3 separate regions of the Homo sapiens genome follow, and regions 2 and 3 are each linked to region 1. Evidence: fine-mapped expression QTL. A gene starts in region 1. Each other region holds a variant in brackets. All regions are shown on one strand. Distances are between the middles of the regions.

Region 1 (8,184 bases):
ACAAGCTAAAAAGCATAAGGCCTGGTTTCAATCCCAGGTTTCTGACTCTAAACACCATGCTCTTAATTGCTGTCTTTCCAGAAAAAGACGAAAAGACTAAATGCATTTTCTACTATGATCAGATTATACCAATTGCTCTTATATTTTTTTTCTCTCCTTCCACATAGAAGTGCAGTAAATGTATGTCCTAAACCAACACTCTAGTTAAGATTCTAATTTTATTGTAGCAAAATATACATACCATACAATTTACCATTTTAACCATTTTTAAGCAGACATTTCAGTGATGTTGAGTATATGCACATTGTTATACAATCACTGTCATCTATTTCCAGAACTTCATCTTCCTAAACTGAAACTCCATGCCTGTCACACAATAACTCTCCATTCCCCACTTCCCCTTGCCCCTGGCAACCACCATTCTATTTTCTGTCTGTATCAATTTGACTACACTATGTACCTCATATAAGTGGAATCATACGGTATTTGTCCTTTTATGCCTGGTTTATTTCACTTAGCATAATGTCTTCAAAGTTCATCCATGTAAGAATATCCCTCCTCTTTAGGGAAGAATAATATTCCACCATATGCATATATTACATTCTCTTTATGTGTTCATTTATTGTCTTAGTTGGTTCAGGCTTCTATAACAAACTATCATAAACTTGGTACCTTATAAACAACAGAAATATATTTATCACTGTTTTAGAGGCTGGAAAGTCCATCATCAAGCCATCAGCAGCAGGTTTATGTCTGGTGAGGTCCCACTTTCTGGTTCATAGATGTTCACTTCTTGCCGTGTCCTCACGTGGTGGAAGGGGTAAGAGGGCTCTCTCTCCAGCCTCTTTTATAAAGGTAATCATCTCATTTATGACCTAATTACATCTCAAACACCCCACCTCTTAAAACCATCACATTGGTGATTAAATTTCAACATATGAATTTGGGGGGGACAGAAACTTTCAGACCATAGCATCTGCCAATGGACACTTGGGTTGCTTTCACCTTTTGGCTATTATGAGTAATACTGCTGCAAACAGGAGTGTACGAATATCTGTTTGAATTGCTGCATTTAATTCTTTTAGATATATACCCAAAAGTGGAATTGCGAGATTATATGGTAATTCTATGTTTAATTTTTTAAGCAATTGCTATCCTATTTCCCATATCAGCTGCACCATTTTACATTACCACAGATTCTAAAATTTTTAACAAGAAAGTATAACTAAAATAATAAGTGATGAATGATATAAAACGAGCAAGGTAGACAATTAGCCCATAATTAGAGACTCTCAGAGCTTTAAGGGTCTCTAAAGTGCATCAGTCCAAGTATCCATCATATATTTGAAGATAGTGCTTAAAGTTCTTGGATGATGATTACATTAACCCTCTGGCAAACATTGATTAAAGGCTAACTAGGTACCCAGCACAATGCTGTGCAGAGCTAAAAGGAACAATGAAATTATCCATCCTTTCTTGGAATTATTTCCCATAACTACCATATGCAGCCTGCCGATTTACCTAGGATAATGATTCACCTGGGTAGAAAGACCACGTATTTCAATTATTTTACTTCTGGTCTCTCTCCATGGGAAAGATAGACTAGTTTTAAAAATGATGTGGGTTGGTAAATATTTGCAGTTAGAGTCTTTGTGAGGTCACCATAGCAGTTATAAAACAAAACAATCTAAATATAATTGTAGATCCTTATAGAAACCTGACATCTAGCCATGTCTGCCTACATTATTAGGCCTTCCACAGAGTTAAATGGTCTTCCACAGAGTTGGCCAAGTTTAGAAGTTACACAACTCTGAGGTGTAATGAATGCTCATAAAAAATGGTTTCTGTCTCAGTTGGGAAATACCAAGTACTCCTAAACAATGACAAGAACAGGTGGAAGACAACAAAAAGAGTCTTTTTTTTTTTTTTTTTTTTGAGACGGAGTCTCGCTCTGTCGCTCAGGCTGAAGTGCAGTGGTGTGATCTCAGTTCACTGCAACCTCTGCCTCCAGGGTTCAAGCGATTCTCCTGCCTCAGCCTTCTCCAGAGTAGCTGGGATTACAGGTGCCCACCACCATGCCTGGCTAATTTTTGTATTTTTAGTAGAGACAGGGTTTCACCATGTTGGCCAGGCTGGTCTCAAACTCTTGACCTCAAGTGTTCTGCCTGCCTTGGCCTCCCAAATTGTTGGGATTACAGGCATAAGCCACCATGCCCGTCCCTTCCAGGCAATTCTTAACTCCAATTCTATCCATACCCCTAGCAAACTTGGACTCCACTTAGTAAAGCATGGGTGGAGGAAGGGGTGTGGAGCAAGGGCAGGGGACAAGGAGAATCTAAGGAGCATTTCATGTTCCTTTTCCTTAATTTTCCAGTTCACCTCAAGTTGTCAAACATTTGTGCAGTGTTTACTATATATTGGACATTCTTCAAGGTACTGGAGACACAAACAAATTAGACTTGGACATTACTTCGAGATGCTCAAAATCTAGTGTAAGAGTATGGTTTATTTTTTATATGTTTAGTTGTTTATATTTTAGAAAGCTTCACAGGTGGGATGAAATATTTTACAATGCTATAATCATGTATGGTTAGGTAAGGAGCAGGTAATAGCTCAGTTTGTGTGTGTGTGTGTATGTCCAAGGTCACTGTAAATAGTTTACCCCAGCTGGAACCAGCCTTTCTCCCTCCCAGAGATACCACACTATTTTTAGCTTAGATTGGATAACTCTTTATATACAACTCTTTGCCAAGGTCCCAGCTGCTTCATGTTTGCTTACTTTGATATTTTATTAACGCCTATTTAGCATTTCAATAAACTCCAGAATGTTTCCAGGTTACTTTTTGTAGTATTACGAAAAACACACTGATCATTTAGGCACTGTATTAGGCTGCATTCACTCAACATTTCCTGAATGCTTAAATACCAGGTCCTTGGGATACAACAGCGAACATAACAAGCAAAAATTTCTGCCCTCATGCAGCATACATTCCAGTGACTACATATGATAAAAATCCAAAATAATAGAGGCCACACTGGTCTGGATCCTCAAGTGATCCGCCTGCCTCGGCCTCCTAGTGTGCTGGGATTACAGGTGTGAACCACCGCGCCCGGCCTGCAAAAGTCTTTTAACTGGCCTCCCCATCTCCAAACTCTATCCTCCATATTAGTGTTGCAGGACTTTTTAAAATAAAACCTTGGTCATTTAATTTCTCACATTAGAAAACTTCCACTGTTTTTCACTGTTTACAGTAGAAATCCAATTCTCTTAGTATGGTATATAAGACTCTTCATGATCTAGCCCCAGTAAAACACTCTACAGTCTCCCCACCCAATATTTTTTTCACCGTATCCCTTCCATCTGGCCAGGCTGAGTCCTGGCAGCCACGACCCCCTATGGATCATGCTGGTTTAAATCTCCTGGGTTGCTCATGTTATTCCTGCTCCTACAAAGATCTCCATCTTCTTGTCTACCTAAAGAAAACCTACTCATCTGTGTGCAATCACCATAAAGACTTATCTCTCTTCTGCAGCCTTTCCTGCAATTTCCATACCTCTGGCACGGACAATCACCTTTTAAAAATACCCCATATAAATTTATCATAGCCTCTACAGTATTTTGATTACACTTAACTAATTACATGACTTCTCTTTTAGTCTTCTTCTCTAATCTCTTGAGGCCATGGACCATATCCCATTATTTTGAATCCCAAATGCCTAGTACTGTTCTTGGTATATGGTTAAGATGATCATACGACTTGGTTTGTGCCTGTTGACCTGGCTTAATAATTACACCCTCTTTACTCTCAAAAGTATCTTGGTTTGGCAGATAAATTATATTTGGTCATTCTCCACATAGTATATGCCTGGCAATAAATGAATGAATGAGCACCAGCATCTGAGCACTTATTACCATACAATATATACATGTATAGTAATACTTTTTAAAAAAGTTGTATATGATGATGTGCTGCTTTTTTGCTTAGCTTCATTAGAACTGGCCAGCTCCTTTTTCTCACTTGCCAAGCATGGGGAGTTGGTTTGGAGTTGGTGTTTCATCTTTTCCAGTTACAGTGTGAAAGTAGCCCACCAGCCCACGCTCTTATTCCTAAAGACCGCAGTGACTCCACGGACTTAAGTTCTCATTGCTTCCAGTTTCCTTGGGCAACGCAGCACGCAATTTTGGACGCGCTGCGTGGTTTCAGAGTCGGCTGTAACTTTTCTCACTTTATAATCATCAGGAAAAGTTCCTGATGCCAGTCTTCCAAACGCTCAATGAAATAAAAACCAGATAGCACCGCAGAGGAGGCTGAGATGCAACGACAAAAGCTGTCGTAATTATTAATAATACCTAACCCTGGATCACTCCCCTGATAGATCTGTATCTTTGCAGCAGGCGCAATTCAGTTTGGATTCACCCAAAACAAAAATGGTCTCCGTCGGAGTCAACGCCCTTTCCTGTGCGGACCAATCAGAATCTCAAACACAGGGCACGGGGCCCACACTTCCGTCCGGTCTGCCTGGTCTCTCTAACCGCGCCAGTGTGCCTCCGACTCGGAACGGCTTCCGCGGCCGGGGCAGCGAGGGCCGGGGGCGGCGGGCGGGATGAGTGCGGTGTGCGGTGGAGCGGCGCGGATGCTGCGGACGCCGGGACGCCACGGCTACGCCGCCGAGTTCTCCCCGTACCTGCCGGGCCGCCTGGCCTGCGCCACCGCGCAGCACTACGGCATCGCGGGTGAGGCGGCGCCGCGCAGCTGGGGCCGGGGGGCGGAGGCGGAGGCGGGGGCCAGCCGGGCTCCAGTTCCTCGCGCTCGAGGGAAAGCCCCTCTGAGCGTAGACGGTTCCGCGGGTCCACGCCAGGGGGCAGAAGAGGCGCTGGTCGGCGCTTCTCCTTTCTTTGCCGAGTGCGAGGAGTTGGTCTGAAGCAGGAGTCGATCTTCCAGTTGTGTGCAAGTGCATATACGTGTAGCCTAGTAGCCCGTGTCCTTGTTCCTTGAGACCGCGCTGCCTCCGCCACGTGTCACACGCCCAGGCACACGTCCCCGTAGGGAGAGCCGGGGGAGCCTGCGCGGTCCCTTGGATCGGTCCGCTCGGCACAGCAGTACGGGGAAGACGGTCTGAGCCAGAACCGACCCAGGGCTCGCGAGTTGGCCCACAATTCCCAGTCTGCATTCGAGCACTGAGCTGCGACCTGCGGGCTGGCCTTCCTAAGGACGATGCTCCTGAATGGACGCCTGGAGTCCCACGGGTGACACCATGAAATATATCAAGTTCAGTTCTTACCTGTAGTTGTCTAACGAGGAATGCACACATTCGCAAGTAGGTGTTACAGACTCCAGTTAATTGTCTCCCGTCGCGCGCATTGGCTCAGCCTGTGGTTAAAGCTGCTCAGGAGGCTGAGGCGGGAGGATCGCTTGAGCCCGGGATGTTGAGGCTACAATGAGCTGAGATCACATCACTCTGCCCCAGCCCAGTGAGCTGAGATCACATCACTCCACTCCAGCCTGGGTGACAGACTGAGACCCCGTCTTAAAAAGAAAAAAGGCCAAGCGCCGTGCGGTGGCTCACGTCTGTAATCCCAGCACTTTGGGAGGCCGAGGTGGGCGGATCACTTGAGTTCGGGAGTTCCAGACCAGCCTGACCAACATGGAGAAACCCCATCTCTACTGAAAATACAAAATTAGCCGGGCGTGGTGGCGCATGCCTGTAATCCCAGCTACTCGGGAGGCTGAGGTAAGAGAATAGTTTGAACCCAGGAGGCAGAGGTTGCGGTGAGCCGAGATCGTGCCATTGCACTCCAGCCTGGGCAAGAAGAGCAAAACTCCGTCTCAAAAAAAAGAGTCCATCTAGTCCGTGGACTAGATGAAAAGGCGTAGGTTCATTCTCGCTTTTGCCTTAATTCATGTCCTAGCTATTATACGCACTGAAGCGAGATGCAAAAACTCATTTCATAATGTCAGTGGTCTATTGTATTTTTTTGTTTTGTCCTACAGCAGAAAAAAATGTTACTTCTAAAACTCAGAGAAATACTTGATTTATTTTCATTATTAGCTCTTAGTGCTTGCACATTCAGATTTACATGGCCCACCAGTTAGACTGAAGACTCATGAGTCTATAATGGTAGTAGTTTTCTTTTTTTCTTTTTTCTTTTTCTCTTTAGAGACAGGGTCTCACCCTGTTGCCTAGGTTGAGTAGAGTGGTGCAATCACAGCTCACCGTAGCCTCCACCTCCTGGGCTCATATGATCCTCCTGTCTCAACCTCACCAGTAGCTGGGACCACAGGCATGTACCATCACACCTGGCTAATTTTTGATTTTTTATTTTTGTAGAGACAGGGTATCACTATGTTGCCCAGGCTGGTCCGGAACTGGGTGCAAGCGATCTTCCTGCCTTGGCCTCCCAAAGTGCTGGGATTACAGGCGTGAGCCACTGTGACTGGCCTGTAATGCTACTTAAAATCTTATGCAAAAACTCTTTAAAGGGAATTGGTATTTAAAAAAAAAAATTCAGTCATGTTTAAATAGAAGAGATTTTCCCCCTTGGTCTCTATAAAAAGTAAACATAACTTTTAAAATACAATGGCCCTTTGGTAAAATAATCTTTGACAGGTAACATATTAATACTGTTTTCAGCACTTTATTACCACCAGTTATGTAGTAAATCCCACCAAGTATCTCCGCATTCATATTTTGTTTTAAAATCCTGTGTGAGATGTGTTTTAGATTTACTGGTGAGGAGTGCAGTCCCTGGGGTCTGTAAGCCAGAGGTTTCTCATCTGTCAGTAGGAATGATAACACCAACTTGGAAGGTTTGTGTCTCTGGTGCCTTGTCTGGCTACAGAGTAGGCCCTTAAGTATTTCACCCCCCTGTTAGGTCCATGTCTGAATTCCAATCATAGGTGCAATGGGAAGTTGAATATTTAGTAACTGAAGTACAATATGGAAAAACAGAAATAGAGAACACATTTGGTATTCATGTCCCAAAAACTTTAGGGAGAAATTGATCACCTGACCATTTGGTATTCAAGGTCCCAAATACTTTGGGGAAAAATTTGTGGTATTAAAATCAGGTATCAATTACTTGATAACTCCTTGACTTTCGATGTTACCCTGGCAGGTTCAAAGGGATGACCTTGATTTTTTTTCTCTTTAGGCTGTGGAACCCTACTAATATTGGATCCAGATGAAGCTGGGCTAAGGCTTTTTAGAAGGTAAGGGGGCTGAAATTATTAAAGGTATATATTGTTGCTATTAAAGCCTTAATAGAATTAGGTTTTGACTCTTTGATTAATGTTTTAATATACAGTATAAAAGGAACCTTGGCGTTTGCATAGGATGAAGCTTATTTTTAGCTGATTGTGGTGGTGCGCACCTGTAGTCCCAGCTATTCCCAAGTCTGAGGCAGAAGGATCACTTGAGGCCGGGAGTTCAAGACCAGCCTCGTGGGCAACATAGGAGGACCCCGTCTCTAAAAGAAATTTTTTTTTTTTATGCACAGAGTCTGGCTCTGTCACCCAGGCTGGAGTACAGTGGCGCCATCTTGGCTCAGTGCAGTCTTCCCCTCCTGGGTTCAAGTGATTCTCCTGCCTCAGCCTCCCAAGTAGCTGGGATTATAGGTGCCCGCCACCACACCCGGCTAATTTTTGTATTTTTTAGTAGAGATGGGGTTTCATCATTTTGGCCAGGCTGGTCTCAAACTCCTGACCTCAGGTGATCTGCCCACCTTGGCCTCCCAAAGTGGGTATTATATGCGTGAGCCACTGGGCCCAGCCTAAAAATTTTTTTAATTTTTAGGCCGTAGTCCCAGCTACTTGGGAAGCTGAGGTGGGAGGATTGCTTGAGTCCAGTTCAAGGCTGTAGTGAGCTGTGATTGGGCCACTACACTCCAGCCTGGATGACAGAACAAGACTCTTTCTCTCAAATAAAAAACAAAACAAATCTGAAGCCTGTCTCTTAGTGTCCACTCATAAATTATAAAATTTAAACATAAAAAAATGTGGAGCAGTATACTGTGTACTATTACATTTTTGGACTACTACATTCCACTGGACTGTTTTTTTTAACCTTTCTGAATCTGTTGCCATATTTGTCAAGTACCTACTCTACTTAACTCCCGTAGTTGTGCAGATTACATGAGATATACGTGTTAAAATGTGTGATAAATTGAAAGAAAAAAAACCATAA
Region 2 (8,184 bases), 28 kb before region 1:
AGTTAGGGATCCCTGGGTTTTCTCACCTAAGAAGGTAAGTACTTCCTTCACAGGCTTGTTTGGAGGATTCAATGAAATACACTCAAACTTCAGCTCCCTTCTAATCATTCTCTCTCCCTTTCCCAGAGACAGTATTTGGAGAATAACAGAAACCAAGCCTTGTTAGGAAAGTTTCTTTCAAATTAGCTTAGAGTTTAACATTTTTTTTCTAGAGCCCTAGGAAAAAAACGCCCAATCAGTGCAATAAAAATAGGCTCAAGTGTTCAGTTGGGTATTTTCCTCTCATATCTTTTAGTTCTTTGAAGTTTCTTCCAAATTATAATCCAAAAATAAGAGTGCTACAATTTTTAGAAAAGTTATGTTGATGTAACTTTTATAGCAAGCTACCCAAAGAATCAAGCTATATTATAGCCATGCTCAGTTATGAAGACCAAAACTATTTTAAAAATACCAGAACGAGAAAGTCCTAGTTTATTTAGTCTGGCTTCCTTAACATGAAGGTCTTGTTGTTCTCAAAATATTCAGCTTTGGCTGAATTCCAAAACTGACATAAGCCCACTTCAGGTGTTTGGAAGACACTAAAGAGAATCAGAATTGAAAACAAGATTGGAAAATAAAGCCTTTTATGTGATCACAAATGCAAGAAGTGTATTGTTTTGAAACTACTAAACCAAGTTTTTACCCACAAATGTAAACATAAATATGTATATATTCTCAACACTGGACGTACAGGGGACTAAAGGTTAATTTCCATAATATGGTATTATTCCTAACATTTGCTAACAGCTAAGTGCTTCAGTTACTAGAACTGCCTTAACATTTTCTGAAATTTGAGATAGGTTGAAAGATACATTTCTTTCATGGATTATGCTAGCAATCACTTTAATGGCGAAACTAATCTTATTATTAGGATAGCATACAGGTGTTTTAGACAATGTTAAATTACAAACTTTCTAGCCCACCATGGTTTATGGGGTAATAAAAAACAGGCCCTGGTTCTTTCACCAAAATCCTTACAAAGATAACACACAAGTTCAGTGTAAGTTGTAATGTTATTGCCTTTGGAAGCACTGTAATTACTTCAAAGTCTGGGTTGGTGAGAGGAAATTCAAGCTACTAAAACTTATCGAAGGTAAGGTGAGTTGGGAAGATCATCACATGGCATGCAAATTAATATAGTTACACTCTGCGTGCATGGTATGTCATCGTTCCCGTACTCTCAAAACTACACAGAGAAAAGGAGAACCTCATCTAAAACGGTCACAGGTATATGCAGAAAGAAAACAGGGACCAAACCTCACAGAAGCGAAACCGAGACACTGAAAGGAGAAAGACTGACTGGGGCAAATATCTCACACTGCTGGAGAACAGTTCAAGTCGATCGCATGGACCCAGGGCTCCAGCGCTGGGCGGTGGGTGGATCCATAGGTCTATCGCACAAGTACACACAGACTCTTGCACAAGCACACACGCTCTCTCCGGAGCGGCGAGCGACAGGAGCAGTCACGCAGCGGCGCTCGCTGCCCCCAAAGTGGGGCAAGAAGTAAATGCTTCCCGCCCAGAAAAATGAAATGCCCCGAAGACCGCCAGATTAAACGCGGGTCCCGACCGCGCGGGATGGGAAAGGGGTCACACACGCACCTGCATTGTAAAAGCGGTCCAGCACGGTGGTTTCTCCAAAGTCGAGTTTCCCAAAATGCAGGGTTTCCAGGGTGGCGCCCACTGTCTCGCACGCCTCCCGCAAGCTCTGCAGGGCCTCGCTCTCGGCCACCACCAGTTGCCCTTGGCTCGCTTCGTTGATCACATATGCCACCGTGGTCCGTCGGCTGCCCCCGCCAACAGAGCTGCCCCGGCCTCGGGTGGCACTGCTCGAGGAGGTGGCCGCCGGACAACCGATGCCAGGGGCAGCGGCGCTCTCCACGTTCCAGAAGCTGCCCGGCGGCGGCGGTGGCAGCTGGTGCTCCTCGCCCTCGCCCACCGCCGCCGCTCCTCCCCTCCTGCAGATGCCGCCCTCGGGGATGGTGCAGAAGCCCGAGGGGGCGAAGGGTGGCACAGAGAAAGTGATGCCCTCGTCCGCCTCCGTGCTCATCTCTCCGGGCCGGGCAGCAACGGCGGCGGCGTCCCCCGCCCAGCCGCACCGCCTGGCCAGCCACAGCTCGGGGCTGCTCCGCGCCCGCCGGGCTAAGCAGCTGCCATCGCGCGCCGCGCCCTCGCCGCCGCGCCGCCGCCTCCTCTCCGGCGCCCTCTCCCCCGAGGGCACGCCGCTGCCCGGCGGCGGCTCGCTCCTCCTCGGCGCCTCCGTGGCCGCGCCGCTCGCCCTCTGCAGAGTTTAGAGTACAAGGGGTGGGGAAGCCGGGTGAGCGGGAAGGGACGGAGCTTCCTTTTCTTGGCCGGCTGACAAGTCGGCTCGCAAACCTGCGCCGCGGTGCAGCTCAAGGGCGCCGCGCTCGGGGTGCAGCCCGCCCTCGCCACCCGCCGCGCCGCGCCGCGCCGCGCCGCGCAGCTCCTTCCGTCCCGGCCGCTCTGGGAGGGGCCAGGAAGGGCGCCCCCTGGGTGCGGAGCTACCTGGCGCGCACCTTACGAGCGGGCTGGCTCCCCAGGCGGCGTCCCGGAACAGCAGCAGCGGCAGCCGAAAGGACCCTCCTCCCTCTTAGGCGGCAGCTCGCCTTCATCGGGTGGATTTCCTCCTCCTTGCCTGGCCTCGTTTCTCTTTCGATCGCCTCCGCCGCGTGGTCCCGGCGCCAGCCTCGTCGTTCCTTGCAGACGCTCTCCCTCTCCACCACCAGCTTCTGGCCACCCACTCGTAGCGGCACCGAGGGTCAGGGCCAGCCCCCAAGGAGGGCGCTGCTAGGAAGCTCGAGCCCGGACTGAACTGACCGCGCTGCGGCCCTGGGACCCCAGCCCTCCTCTGAGTGCTGCGCGTGGCATAGGGTCCCAGTCTTCACCCACCCGGCCCCCACCTACGAAGACCTGGAGCGCAAGCGATTACGGGGTGGCGCAGAAAGTCCCTCGAGGCAATACTCGGTCTTCGGAGTCCGCCCCTGAAGCATTTCCAGTGTTCCCCGCGACTAGGGCGCCCCCCTCCGGGCCTTGGCGGCCTGGTGGACTGGGACCGTGCGCGGCGCTGGCAGGATAGGCTCCGGGAGACCCACGTTGCGCGAGGCAGGAGGTTGTACATAGCGCCCTGGAGCCAGGGCCTGCACTGGAGGTTGCTTCATTAGTGACTGTGGCACTCCAGAAGTGGCTGGCTAAATTGATCAGGTTCTCCCATGTACTTTTCCTTTTAAAATTTCCAGTGGCTCATTCCGTTATCAGTAATGAGTAATTGATTAGTGCCAACTGCCGAAGGACTTAGTATTCTCATTTAGGATCTTAATTCCCCCACAAGCGCCAGATACTTAAGATAGAAGATGGAGTCTCTACCCGACTCCACAAATTATCAACAAGATGAAACAGGGGAATAACGTGACCTATTCTATTTTTTAAACTGCATCACGCGAGGCCGGGAGGGAAATACCCAGATTGTTTAAGAGCAATCAAAAAAAGTACCT[G/A]CTTATTTGGGGAGCAAAGAACAGATGTGTAAGTTCCCAGAGAACCCCAGAATGCTGTAATTGTTAGGAAAGCCAGTGCAAGTTACAACTGAGTAAAGAAACAGGTTTTGTACTTCCCATCTCCAGGAACTGAGACTAGTGAGTCCTGTGAAAAAGGCAGAAGAAAATGTAAATTACTTTTTTTTTTTTTTGAGACGGAGTTTCGCTCTTCTTGCCCGGGCTGGAGTGCAATGGCGCGATTTCGACTCCCTGCGACCTCTGCCTCCCGGGTTCAAGCGATTCCCCTGCCTCAGCCTTTCGAATAGCTGGGATTACAGGCATGCGCCACCACACCAGGCTAATTTTGTATTTTTAGTAGAGACGGGAGGGGGAGGGGTGTGGGGTTCACCATGTTGGCCAGGCTGGTCTCTAACTCCTGACCTCAGGTGATATGCCCGCGTCGGCCTCCCAAAGTGCTGGGATTACAGGCGTGAACCACCCAGCCCAGCCATGAATTACATTTCAAACTGGGTAAGAAGGAAGGATAAAATAGCTGAATAGTAAAGAATTAAAGGAAAGTCTGGGCGCAGTGGCTCACGCCTGTAATCCCAACACTTTGGGAGGCCGAGGCGGGCAGATCACTTGAGGTCAGGAGTTCAAGACCAGCCTGGCCAACATGGTGAAACCCCCGTCTCTACTAAAAATACAAAAATTAGCTGGACGTGGTGGCAGCCGCCTGTAATCCCAGCTACTCGAGAGGCTGAGACAGGAGAATCGTTTGAACCCGGGAGGTGGAGGTTGCAGTGAGCCGAGATGGCGACACTGCACTCTAGACTGGGCGACAGAGCGAGACTCCATCTAAAAAAAGAAAAAGAAAAAGAATTAAAGGAAAGAGTTCTTTAATTTTCTCCAAGGTGGGAGGATTGCTTGAGCCCAAGAGTTCAAGATCAGCCTGGACAACATAGTGAGACCCCCATCTTAAAAAAAAATAATAATTAAAGGAAGGAAGGAAATAGTCATGAGGAAAAACACCTAGCCGCTACACAACTGTATCAATGAATCAATGTGACATTAGATTTTTCTAAAGGTGTATAAAATAATAGAAGTAAATTTCTAGTAAGGAAACTTTATATTCTTCATGTAAAATGGAATCTATGTGACCCACACTAGCTTTTGGAATTAATATCAATAGTAAAATAGGTAGTGAATCAGTGATTATACTGAAACAAAATGTTGCTGAGCTAGTAATAGTTATGTGCCTTTTAATATTTTCAACAACTTGTCAAACCTCCAAAACCTTGTAGGAGTAAGATAATCCTCCCCGCTATCCTCACCAAGAACCACAAACTCTGGAAATCGATGAGGTTCATGTGTGGAAAACTAAAACGCCTAAATGCTCAAGTAGCATTTTACTGTAGAAATACAAAATCTGAAATTATATATCAAGCTATTTTCCAAAGCTGTAACTTTTTATACCCTCTCACTTTGTGCTTTCCTTCCAGATCCTTTCAGAGCCATTTTCATACACAATTTTTATTTTTTGTTTTACTTTGCTGGCTTTTTTGATTTATTAACTTTAAATATGTTTTTTATGTTAGGCACCCAAACCCCAATACAATGTTGAAATTCTGCTTCTAGCTGGTCCAGAGATTCTCCCTCTACCTAAAAGGCACGGTTTAGGTAATTTATGTTCCATAGCATAGGGTTATGAGATAATGAGGAACTAGCTGGCAAGATTCTGGAAGAAAGGACAGGAATCCAGAGGGTGAGTCTACAGTCAGGGTTCCCTTTGGCTGTGGGATTTTTGTGGATCTGAATTAGGCAGCTGAAAGGCTGAAGTGAATTTTTTTAATGAAAAATAACGGTATTTTGCAAAACAAAACAAAAAGAATGGTGACACCGTTGTGCATTTTCACAAATCTTTTTAATGTCTGGCTTAATAGATGACAGTGGATTCTCATTTCTGCTTCTACATTCATGCTGTTGCAGCATGTTGTTTTGGTTGAAGGGTATAAAGAAAATCTGGAGAAGTTTCTGAAGTGTAGGAGGTATTTGAAGAAGTACATGAAGAAAATACTCTGGGAGGAGCACAGTCACTCCCACTGTGAAGGCACACATGAATTCCTAAAAATCACTGAGCTGTGCAAAATAGTGCTTTTTTTAAAGTAATTTCAAGTTTTATTTTAGATTCGGGGGTACATGTGCAGGTTACATGGATATATTGCATGATGCTCAAGTTTAGGGTACGATTGTTCTTGTCACTCAGGTAGTAGAAAGAGCACCCAACAGTTGGTTTTTCAACCCTTGCTCCCTCCTTCCCTCCCGTCCGCAGTGTCTGTTGTTACCATCTTTATGTCCATGTGTATCCAATGGGACCCTCTCCTGGGAAGGTCTTAAGACCCACAGTCAGAAAGGTGGGGGGTTGTTAGCAGGTAAAAGGAGAGCAGGAAAAAATTAGAGGCCTGCCTCTGAGGCCTAACACACTCAACATAACAGAAGACTATAACGAGGGTTATGGGAGTTACAAGCCAGAAACCACAGATGAAAACCAATATATATCGTAACACCACACTCTGTTCATAGTTTCTTTGGTTGTGCAGAAGCTGTTTAGATTAGGTCCCGTCTGTCAGTTTTTCGTTTTGCTGCAAATTGCTTTTCAGGACTTAGTCATAAATTCTTTCCCAAGGCCGATGTCTAGAATGGTATTTCCTAGGTTTTCTTCTATGATTCCTAGGGTTTGAGGTCTTACATTTAAATCTTTAACCCATCTTGAGTGAATTTTTGTATATGGTGATGGGTAGGGGTCCAGTTTTATTCTGCATAAGGCTAGCCAGCACCACTTATTGAACAGGGAGTCCTTCCCCATTGCTTATTTTTATCGACTTTGTTGAAGATCAGATGGCGGTAGGTGTACGGCTTTATTTCTGAGTTCTCTACTCCGTTCCATCAGTCTGAGTGTCTGTTTTTGTACCAGTACCGTGCTGTTTGGGTTACTGTTGCCTTATAGTACAGTTTGAAGTTAGGTAATATGATGCCTCTGGCTTTGGCTTTAGCTATTCAGGCTCTTTTGGGGTTTTATTTTATTTTATTTTATTTTTTCCTGCTGTTCTACAGGCTCCTTTTTGGTTCCATATGAATTGTAGAATAGTTTTTCTAATTCTGTGGAAAATGATGTTGGTAGTTTCTTAGGAATACCATTGAATCTGTAGATTGCTTTGGACAGTGTGGCCATTTAAACAAGATTGATTCTTCCAATCCATCAGCGTGGAATATTTTTCTGTTTGTTTGTGTCATCTATGATTTCCTTCAACAGTGTTTTGTAATTCTCCTTGTAGGGATCTTTCACTTCCTTGATTGGATGTATTCCTAGATTGTGTGCGTGTGTGTGTGTGTGTGTGTGGCTATTATAAATGGAACTGTGTTCTTGACTTGTCTCTCAGCTTGAACGTTATTGGTATATGAAAATGCTACTGATTTTTATACATTGATTTTGTATCCTGAAACTATACCGACATTGTTTATCAATTCTAGGAGCCATTTGGTGGAGTCTAGGTATAGAATCTTGTCTTCAGGGGATGAGGCGCAGTGGCTCATGCCTGTAATCCCAGGACTTTGGAAGGCCAAGGCGGGTATATCACTTGAGGCCAGGAGTTTGAGACCAGCCTGGCCAACACAGTGAAGCCCCATCTCTACTAAAAATACTGAAAAACAAATTAGCTGAGCATGTAGTCTGTAGTCCCAGCTACTTGAGATGGAGGTTGCAGAGAGCCGAGATCGTGCCACTGCACTCCAGCCTGGGTAACAGAGTGAGATTCTGTCTCAAAAAAAAAAAAAAAAAAAAAAGATTCTTATCTTCAGGGAAGAGAGATTATCTGACTCCTTTTCTTATTTGGATGCTTTTTATTTCTTTCTCTTGCCTGATTGCTGTGGCTAGGACCTCCAGTACTATGTGGAATACTGAGAATGGGCATCCTTGTCTTGTTCCTGTTCTTGAGGGCAATGTCTTTAGCTTTTGCCTGTTCAGTATTTGTTAGCTCTGGGTTTGTCATAAATGGCTCTTATTATTTTGAGGTATGTTCCTTTGATGCCTAGTTTGTTGAGGGTTTTTATCATGAAGGGATGTTGGATTTTATCAAAAGCTTTTCCCATACCTATTGAGATATTCATCTAGTTTTTGTTTTTAAATCTGTTTATGTGGTGAGTCACATTTATTGATTTGCATATGTTGAACCAACCTTGGATCTTAGGAATTAAGCCTATTTGATCGGGGTGAATTAACTTTTTGATGTGCGGCTAGATTCAGTTTGCTGGTATTTTGTTGAGGATTTTTGTGCCTGTGTTTATCTGAACTGAATTCTTGATAACATCTTGAGGACAAAATTAAAGATGATATACCCTACAAGTAAGAGTGAACTATAGGTTAGATGGCCCGTACGTGGACAGCAATCCTGCTTCCATTCATCTGAGTAACCCAGAAAGAAGTCTCAAACCCTAAAATTGTATTAAGGTAGTTCCCTGCATTTGAGAAACAAAATTCACTCCAGAGGAAGATGACATCATCTTGGGCCATGAATTATTTCTACAAATATAAGATCTGTAAATGTAAGCAAATATTTGAATGCACGGTAGCATGGTGGAATCAGAGCAAGAATGT
Region 3 (8,184 bases), 140 kb after region 1:
TGGGAGCCACAAGTGTGGACATAAAAGGCTGTCACACTGGCCCTTTGCCCTCGCTGGTGGAGGGCAGTCGTCTCACACGACGAGGCAAAGGGCTCACTGAGCTGTTAACACTTAAGCCATCAGAGGACAGCAGAGCTAAGAGAGCACTGTAACACGCCCTCTGGGGCTCCAGGTGTCACAGGCACCCCCACCTGGATGTTGCCATGGGGCCCGCACAGAGCTTGCTCTTGCTGGTGCCGAAGCGGCTGGCCAGTTCCAGGCCTCGTGCACTCCAGTCCCCGCCTTGTTTGCTCGTGCACTCCCTCCTGTGAGGAGTGGAGAGCTGTGGGCTGAGTAAACGATGCACCCCTGTCTCGAGTCCCACAAAGGGGTCAGGCAAATATCCTGCCTCGTGTACACACACATATCATTTTTTTCTTTTTTGGGGGCGGGTACAGGTAAGGGAGGAGACCACCCCTCATATTGTCTTATGCCCAATTTCCGCCTCCAAAGAAAGAAGTAAAAACTAAAAGGCAGAAATGAAATCCACAGGCAGACAGCCCAGTGCCGCGCCCTGGGCCTGGTAGTTAAAGATCGACCCCTGACCTAACCGGTTATGTTATCTATAGATTCCAGACATTGTATGGAAAAGCACTGTGAAAATCCCTGTCCTGTTCTGTTCTGTTCTGATTACTGGTGCATGCAGTACCCCCTGCTTGCTCAATCCATCAGGACACTCTCACACGGACCCCCTTAGAGTTGTAAGCCCTTAAAATGGACAGGAATTGCTTAGTGAGGAGAGCTTGGCTTTTGAGATGCAAGTCTGCTGAAGTTCCCAGCCAAATAAAGCTCCTTCCTTCTTTAACCCAGTGTCAGAGGAGTTTTGTCTGCGGCTCGTCCTGCTACACAGGGTCTCGCTCTGTCACCCAGGCAGGAGTGCAGTGGCGGGATCAGGATTCACTGCAACCTCCATCTCCCAGGCTTAAGTGATACTCCCACCTCAGCCTCCCTAGAAGGAGTAGCTGGGACCACAGACGCATGCCACCATGCCCAGCTGATTTTTGTATTTTTTGTAGACTGGGTTTCACCATGTTGCTGAGGCTGGTCTTGAACTCCTGGGCTCAAGCGATCTGCCCACCCCAGCCTCCCAAAGTGCTAGGATTACAAGTGTGAGCCACTGTGCCCAGCCACATATAACTTTTATAGGGCAAAAAAATTCTCCATTACCAAGCTTATTAAAAATTGGGGGAAAATATTTCAACATCTGTATCAGACAAAAGGTTAATATAAATAATAAGGAAAAAATTATAATCGATAAGAAAAATTTCAAAACTCTATTAGAAAAAAAAACAGGAAAGGCAATTTGCAAAAGAATTACAAATGATTATTACCTAACAAAGAAATGTTCAACTATTAATCAATAGAAACAGATATTTGAAAAGCTTCTACTTCTCAGTCTGACAAAATTTTATCAGCATTGGCAAGGGTGTGGTGGAAGCAGATGCTCTTACATCCTGTTGGCTTGAGGCTTCCCGAAGGGCGCTTGGGCTTCAGCTCTTAAAAGTATTAGAAAGTGAATATTCTTTGATCTGGCATTTTACTTGTAGGTATTTATCCTGAAGAAATAAATAGACATAGATATACCTGTGTTTATCAGGAGTATGGCCACTGTGATTTATACTAGTGAAAATTGTTAACAGCCTAAATGCTCAACAATGGAGATTGGTTAAATATATAAATATATATTTATAAACATATAAATAATAAATACTATGATATAATACATATATATTTGTAGATATACGTATATGTATGCTATACATATATGTATAGCTGGACTATATGGATTACATGTATATAGGATTTTTAAATTATTAAAATAATTATATAAATGTATATTAAGGCTGGGTGCAGTGGCTCACACCTGTAATCCCAGCACTTTGGGAGGCCGAGGCAGGAGGATCACTTGGGGCCAGGAGTTCGAGACCAGCCTGGCCAACATGGCAAAACCTGTCTCTACTAAAAATACAAAAATTAGCCAGGTGTGGTGGTGCATGTCTGTAATCCCAGCTACTTGGGAGGCTGAGGCATGAGAATTGCTTGAATCTGGGAGGTGAAGGTGGCAGTGAGCCAAGATTGCGCTGCTGCACTGCAGCCTGGGTGGGACTATCTTAAAAAAAAAAAAAAGTATAGTAAGAACCTGGAAGGAACTTTACATTATACATTTTTAAGTGAAAAATAGCATGTGTGTATTTTGGAAAAGCAGAAAAGGTTTTAATATTAACCGTTCGTCTGATACAGATATTGAAATATTTTCCCCAGTTTTTAACAAGCACTGTAGTTTGGTGCATGGAATCAGAAGTCAGACTGCTTGGCTTTGGATCATGGCTCTGTCCCTTTCTGGTTCCACCTCTTAAAAGCTGTGTGACCATGAGTAAGTTACTGAACATATGAACAGGACAAGAACTCTGGACGTGTGGGGATGGAAGGTGGAACTGAGATTCGAGTCCCATTTGAGCGCAGAGCCTGTATTCTTAACTTCTGGGCTACATGGAGCCAAAATAAACAGTGGCAGAGAGAGAGAGAGAGAGAGAGAGATGCAGATAAATAAAGATAGTGAAGGGTATTGGATCGATTATGTTTTAAGTACTTTCAAGGCAAGATTTTACTTTGTCTTTGAATTCCCATCATTTAGTTCCACACCTGGTGCATAATAGACACTCATAAATGAATCATTGGGTAGGGTCATAGGCGTGATGCAGAGCAGAAATGCTTAGGTTCTAACAGTGGGGCCATGGGTTGGCCATTCAGATTTGTAACTAAAAGAAAGAAAGAAAGAAAGGGCCGGGTGCAGTGGCTCACGCCTATAACCCCAGCACTTTGGGAGGCTGAGGCAGGCAGATCACCTGAGGTCAGGGGTTTGAGACCCTCCTGGCCATCATGGTGAAACCCCATCTCTACTAAAAATACAAAAATTACCCGGGCATGGTAGCACACGCCTGTAATCCCAGCTTCTCAGGAGGCTGAGGCAGGAGAATTGCTTGAACCTGGGAGGTGGAGGTTGCAGTGAGCTGAAATTGTGCCACTCTACTCCAGCCTGGGGGACAGAGTGAGACTCCATCTTAAAAAAAACAAAGAAAGGAAAGACAAAAAAGAAAAGAATAGGGAATCTTCTAAAATGAAAAAGGGGCACTAAGAGAGAGTGTGGAATATGGTAGATGAAGGGATCAACTCCTTTCGGACCCACAACCTCTTCTTTTTAAGGCTGCTTGAACTATTTATTAGTCTGTAATTAGAGTCCCAAGCGTTTCCTTCTGTTTCCTAAAGGGTTGGAAAAATGCCCCGAGGGCTTGTCACCATAGGCCTTCCCCACTTCTAATCAGCCAGATGGCAGCTGCAGGAAGTGGCAGCTAAAGCAACAATCACAATGTGGTGTTGACAGTGTAGATCTTCCACTGAATGGGGAGTATGAGGAAGCGTAGACAGTGGAGTTTTTCAGCCTGGATTTTAGAATTGGTTTTTGTCAGTTGGGCTTTATATATTAGTTGGGAATAACTAAATAATTTAAACAACAGCTATTTGATTATACTAATCTATTAGGCCAGAATCGAAAAGTGCCTTTTAAAAAGTCCTCCTGGATTAAAAATTTCTCTTAGAAACATTCATAATTCATTGCTGCTCTTACTAATGTCAAAATCTTACTGACTCAGTAAATGGCAAAAGGTGCATGTGGTGTTTGTGCTTATGTATTTATTTCATTATTTATTTGGATATGGGATACTGCATAGAAAGAAAACACACTCTGACTCGTTAGGTATATAAATCTCATAATCCTTAAGGGAAAAGAGACCAGGGAAGTGTATCTACCACTGGAGATTTTCTTTGACATTACAGACTTAAATGCTGTCACTGGCCTCCCTTTGCAAGGGCACATTCTGTTCAGATGTGTTAATAGAAAGAAAGCAGAGT[C/T]TAATGAAAATGCCAGAATGTCCTTTGGGAAGCTGACAAATAGAGTGTGCTGCTGATGTGGACTCAAGCTGCAGACCATCCATAGGCCTATTATTAGAATAGGGACAATGTCCAACCGTTCCTAATTGCTGAATGACATACACCTGCCACTTAATTTCCTCAGTGTCACCTGTGAATTATACCTAAGATCAAACAGCAAGAACATGTATTCATTCAGATATCTGTGTGTCCATCCATCCATCCATCCAGCCATCCATCCATCCATCCATCCATCCTGCCAAAAGATTGAATGTGTTCATTTAAAACTGAATATAGCAGGCTTCATCTGATGGTGCAAATATTTCTTCTTGGATACTGTGATGTGACAAGGTTTTATAGTTAAATAGATTATATTTTTCCATCAAAACAATATTATAATTGAGAGCTTGCTTCTGTTCAAAATATCAGAAATAATTACTAATAAGCTTCCAAATAGTTAGCCAAAGCAACAATATAAATAAAACCCTACAAACTTCTATAATCTATAATATAGCTTAAAAAAAAAGCAAATTCCAAGACATAGAATCTGGGAGATGGCAGAGACTTTGATAATCTTTTCTTTATTTAATAAGAAGTGAGAAAATCAAAGCTCAGAGGACTGGGTGCCACCCACTTAACTTGCCTGCTGTCACCCACTTAACTCAGTAAAGTGAAGGCAATAATAGCCTTGGTCCCCAGGTTCTCAGATCCATGTTCCCTATTTAACATGCTATTCCTGTCCCCAGAAAAATCCTAAGACACATACACGCGTGCTCTCTCTCTCACCTCTCACATTGCTTAAATAAGAGACCACAACATACTGTGAAATGCATATGATGTGAAAAGATACAACTATGGTTCGAGTGTCTAAATTAATAGCTAGCCAAAATAAATGTGACCAAAATCACAACTTTAAAAATTGTTTGCTCTGTCAAAAGCTAATAAAATATGGAGGTAACAAGGTAGAAGCCTGTTTCTCTTAACAAAACTGTTTGGGAACATTTGAGTCAGTAATTACATGGACACCATTTTCTGCCCCACCTAGACCAAAGTCTATTCATTCCTTTTTCCTTCCTTATAGAACCCTCATTTTATTTGGGTCCCTGCCACTCCCCTGCCCCTGGGCGGTGTCTGTGCCTCAGGGGAAGCCAACACTTCCAGGTCCAGGTCCTGCAGGTCTCAGGGGTATTTCAGTCCCTTGCTTGTGATTGGTTCTGGAAAAGGCACTTCATTCAAGTCAGGCAAATGAGACGATACTGGAGGGGAGGCCTAGGGGAGCTTCCAGAAGGTGCTCTCTTTTAAGGTTACTTCATGAGGAAGTAACTTATAAGGTTACTTCACGAGATTGGCCACAACACCTCACTACCTAAGTGACTTCCAAGGAAGCCAGCTCACATTGTTTATCATTTCAGCCCATTGAATGTTCCCAGTGGAGACATTCCACAATGGAGACATTCCACAATGGAGACATTCCCAAAGGAGAATTCCACAGTGAACGTGAATTCAGAATCCCTGCTCCAAAGGTGATTAGGGTATAGACTAGAGTTTCCTGACTTTTTTTGTCACCTCTCTAAAGAACCTTTTTAGATTTTTTTTCTGATATCCTCCCCACAAAATTCAATACCACAAACATACTGCTTATCTGCGTGTGTACTCTGTGTGTATCTGTGCCTTACACATTAACATAGTAAGATATTTTTGTTTCCCAAGAACAATTTTTGTCTTCTGGAAGATGGTATCATCTCCACCAAGAATGGCTTAGAGGGAGAGACAGGCTGTCCTAAAGAGAGGTATTAGGATGAGGATATCCCTAGGATGGGGGTACCCACTCATTTACAGAAAGTAGGGGCATTGCAAATTCTTTTACAAAATTGCCATTGACGAATATGAATATTTAAAAGTCTCACCACGGACTTTATTTGGTCTTGAATTCATTCCATTCCATTGTTTTTTTCTCATCCCCCTTCATATTCTCACACAACAGCAACATCCTAGCAGCCTGGAAAGAGAAAAGAGGCACAAAGGTCAGCTTGGGATAGCATGGGGGTGCAGGGTCCTAAGCCTTGGCTTTGTTGGCAAATCGCCTTCATTTCTGTCATGTCTCTGAAATGTCTCTCCCATCTTTCTCTTCTTTTTCATCTTCTTTGCCACCATCTTTATAAGCCTTCATCACCTCTGATCTGGGTAATGGACTCTCTTTTCTTTTTTTTCCTTTCTTTCTTTTTCTTTTTCTTTCTTTCTTTCTTTCTTTTTTTTTTTTTGGAGACAGGTTTTGCTCTTGTTGCCTAGGCTGGAGTGCAATGGCGCGATTTTGGCTCACTGCAACCTCTGCCTCCTGGGTTCAAGTGATTCTCGTGCCTCAGCCTCCCGGTTAGCTGGGATTACAGGCATGTGCCATCATGCCCAGCTAATTTTGTATTGTTAGTAGAGACAGGGTTTCACCATGTTTGTCAGGCTGGTCTCGAACTCCCAACCTCAGGAGATCCACCTCCCTCGGCATCGCAAAGTGCTGGGATTACAGGCATGAGCCACCGTGTCCAACCACGATCTCTCTTTTCTTAAGCATTTATTAAGGACCAACTGTATTTCAGTTGCTATTATAATCTCAATCAATACAGCAACCCTGTGAGTTACATATTAATGCCTTCATTTTACAGATGAGGAAATGGAGGCTCAAGAATTTTAGTGTCTTGCCCAAAGCTAGACCCACCAGTAAGATATAGACAGAGCTGGGGCCCAGGTAGGCCAAGTAGTACAACTTACGTCCATACTCCTTCTACTGGATTTTGTAATATCTTTAATGTGTTTAAAAAAATCACACAAGTGATAAATGAATACATTCTGTTTGCAAACAAAAAAAGATGTAATAGGTTAATGTTCCCATTAATTATCTCTCTCTATTCTTATTTTCCCCACCTCCATTCCCCAAGGTAACCACTGTCACCATTTGATGTGGCTCTTTCCAGATCTTATTCTAGAAATTTCATATATCTATCTGTGCCTCACTGCACACGAGGGACCAGAACAGGATGGTGGCGCTCACAAGACCTGGGAGGCGACTGCCCGGATGAATTCCCATGACGCTACATCTTGCATGTGGCTAAGCAGCCTCACTTGGGAATGGGTTAGTTTGTAAATCCTTCTCCTCAGAAAGTACAGGTTTGTGATGTGCAGGTGATTCTATCCTCTGCTCCAGATCATGTAGTGAATATTTAGTATGTTTCATTTTGTTTATGTTTCCATCTCTTTCCCTTCTCTAGATGATTTCTCCTCATCACCTTGTTTCTTCTTTTCTTTCCTTTTCTTTTTTTTTTTTTTTGAGACAGAGTCTCACTCTGTTGCCCAGGCTGGAGTGCAGTGGCGCAATCTCAGCTCACTGCAAGCTCTGCCTCCCAGGTTCAAGCAATTCTTCTGCCTCCGTCTCCCAAGTAGCTGGGACAACAGGCATGTGCCACACGCCCAATTAATTTTTGTATTTTTAGTAGAGATGGGGGTTTCACCTTGTTGGCTAGGCTGGTCTTGAACTCCTGACCTCAGGTGATCTGCCTATCTCCGCTTCTCAAAGTGCTGGAATTACAGTCGCGAGCCACCACACCTGGCCCCTCATCACCTTTTAACCAGAACAGTTAGGTCGTTTTCTTTCTCTTTGTGATGGCAACAGTTATTTTTATAGCTGTCTGGGGAAGGTGCTTAGGTAAATATCAGTTTGAGCTGTACAGTAAGCTTAATATAGCCCTTTTCTATGATTGATGAATTCACTACCTTCTTTTTTTGCACTTTTTGTTCAGTCAATAGAACTCGTGAATTAGTGATAGGGAAGTAAATTAGTTTAAGGTTGACAAACTTCCTAGAACCACACCCAGGGATTACACTAGATCAGATACACATAGTCACCCCTGCTCCTGTACATTGGTCCTCCAACCTTCTACTTCCCTGCAGTGGGGCATGCAGAAGGAAAAGGGACACATCTGTGAGGGAAGAAGATGATGCTGCTGACCGGCATAGACACAGGCACAGGCACATAGGGTCCGAATCTGGAGGGACCTACCATAGGAAGCTGTGGTGTGCACCCCTAGAGCCACTATGCCATGACTGTGCCTCCTTGGAGCCACCATCCAGCCTGGAGATCTCCAGGTAGAGTTCTTGGTGGAGATCACACAGGACAGCAATCTGTGGCCATAATACTATTAAAAAGGGGGCAGGGGGCAGTTCATCTTC

The links.
Region 2: its variant is fine-mapped to the expression of PEX7 in monocytes after Pam3CSK4 (Quach 2016, PIP 0.95). The same link has a PIP of 0.9 or more in monocytes after LPS and monocytes after R848.
Region 3: its variant is fine-mapped to the expression of PEX7 in atrial appendage (GTEx, PIP above 0.99).

The regions. Positions count from the first base shown.
Region 1 is chr6:136,818,061-136,826,244 of GRCh38, forward strand. PEX7 (peroxisomal biogenesis factor 7) reads left to right here and starts at 4,532. Exons shown (of 10, transcript NM_000288.4): 1 at 4,532-4,735; 2 at 7,154-7,211. The coding sequence starts at 4,606. RefSeq lists enhancers at 4,103-4,252, 4,136-4,868, 4,869-5,601, 4,983-5,142 and a silencer at 4,433-4,812.
Region 2 is chr6:136,790,069-136,798,252 of GRCh38, forward strand. MAP3K5 (mitogen-activated protein kinase kinase kinase 5) reads right to left here and starts at 2,409. Exons shown (of 30, transcript NM_005923.4): 1 at 1,642-2,409. The coding sequence starts at 2,089. RefSeq lists enhancers at 1,159-1,674, 1,780-1,849, 2,640-2,869, 2,980-3,039, 3,410-3,489 and a silencer at 1,980-2,619. The variant G/A (reference allele first, on the strand shown) is at 3,552.
Region 3 is chr6:136,959,492-136,967,675 of GRCh38, forward strand. No RefSeq gene overlaps it. Among named protein-coding and RNA genes, the nearest start is that of NHEG1, 30 kb to the right of the region's middle. The variant C/T (reference allele first, on the strand shown) is at 3,949.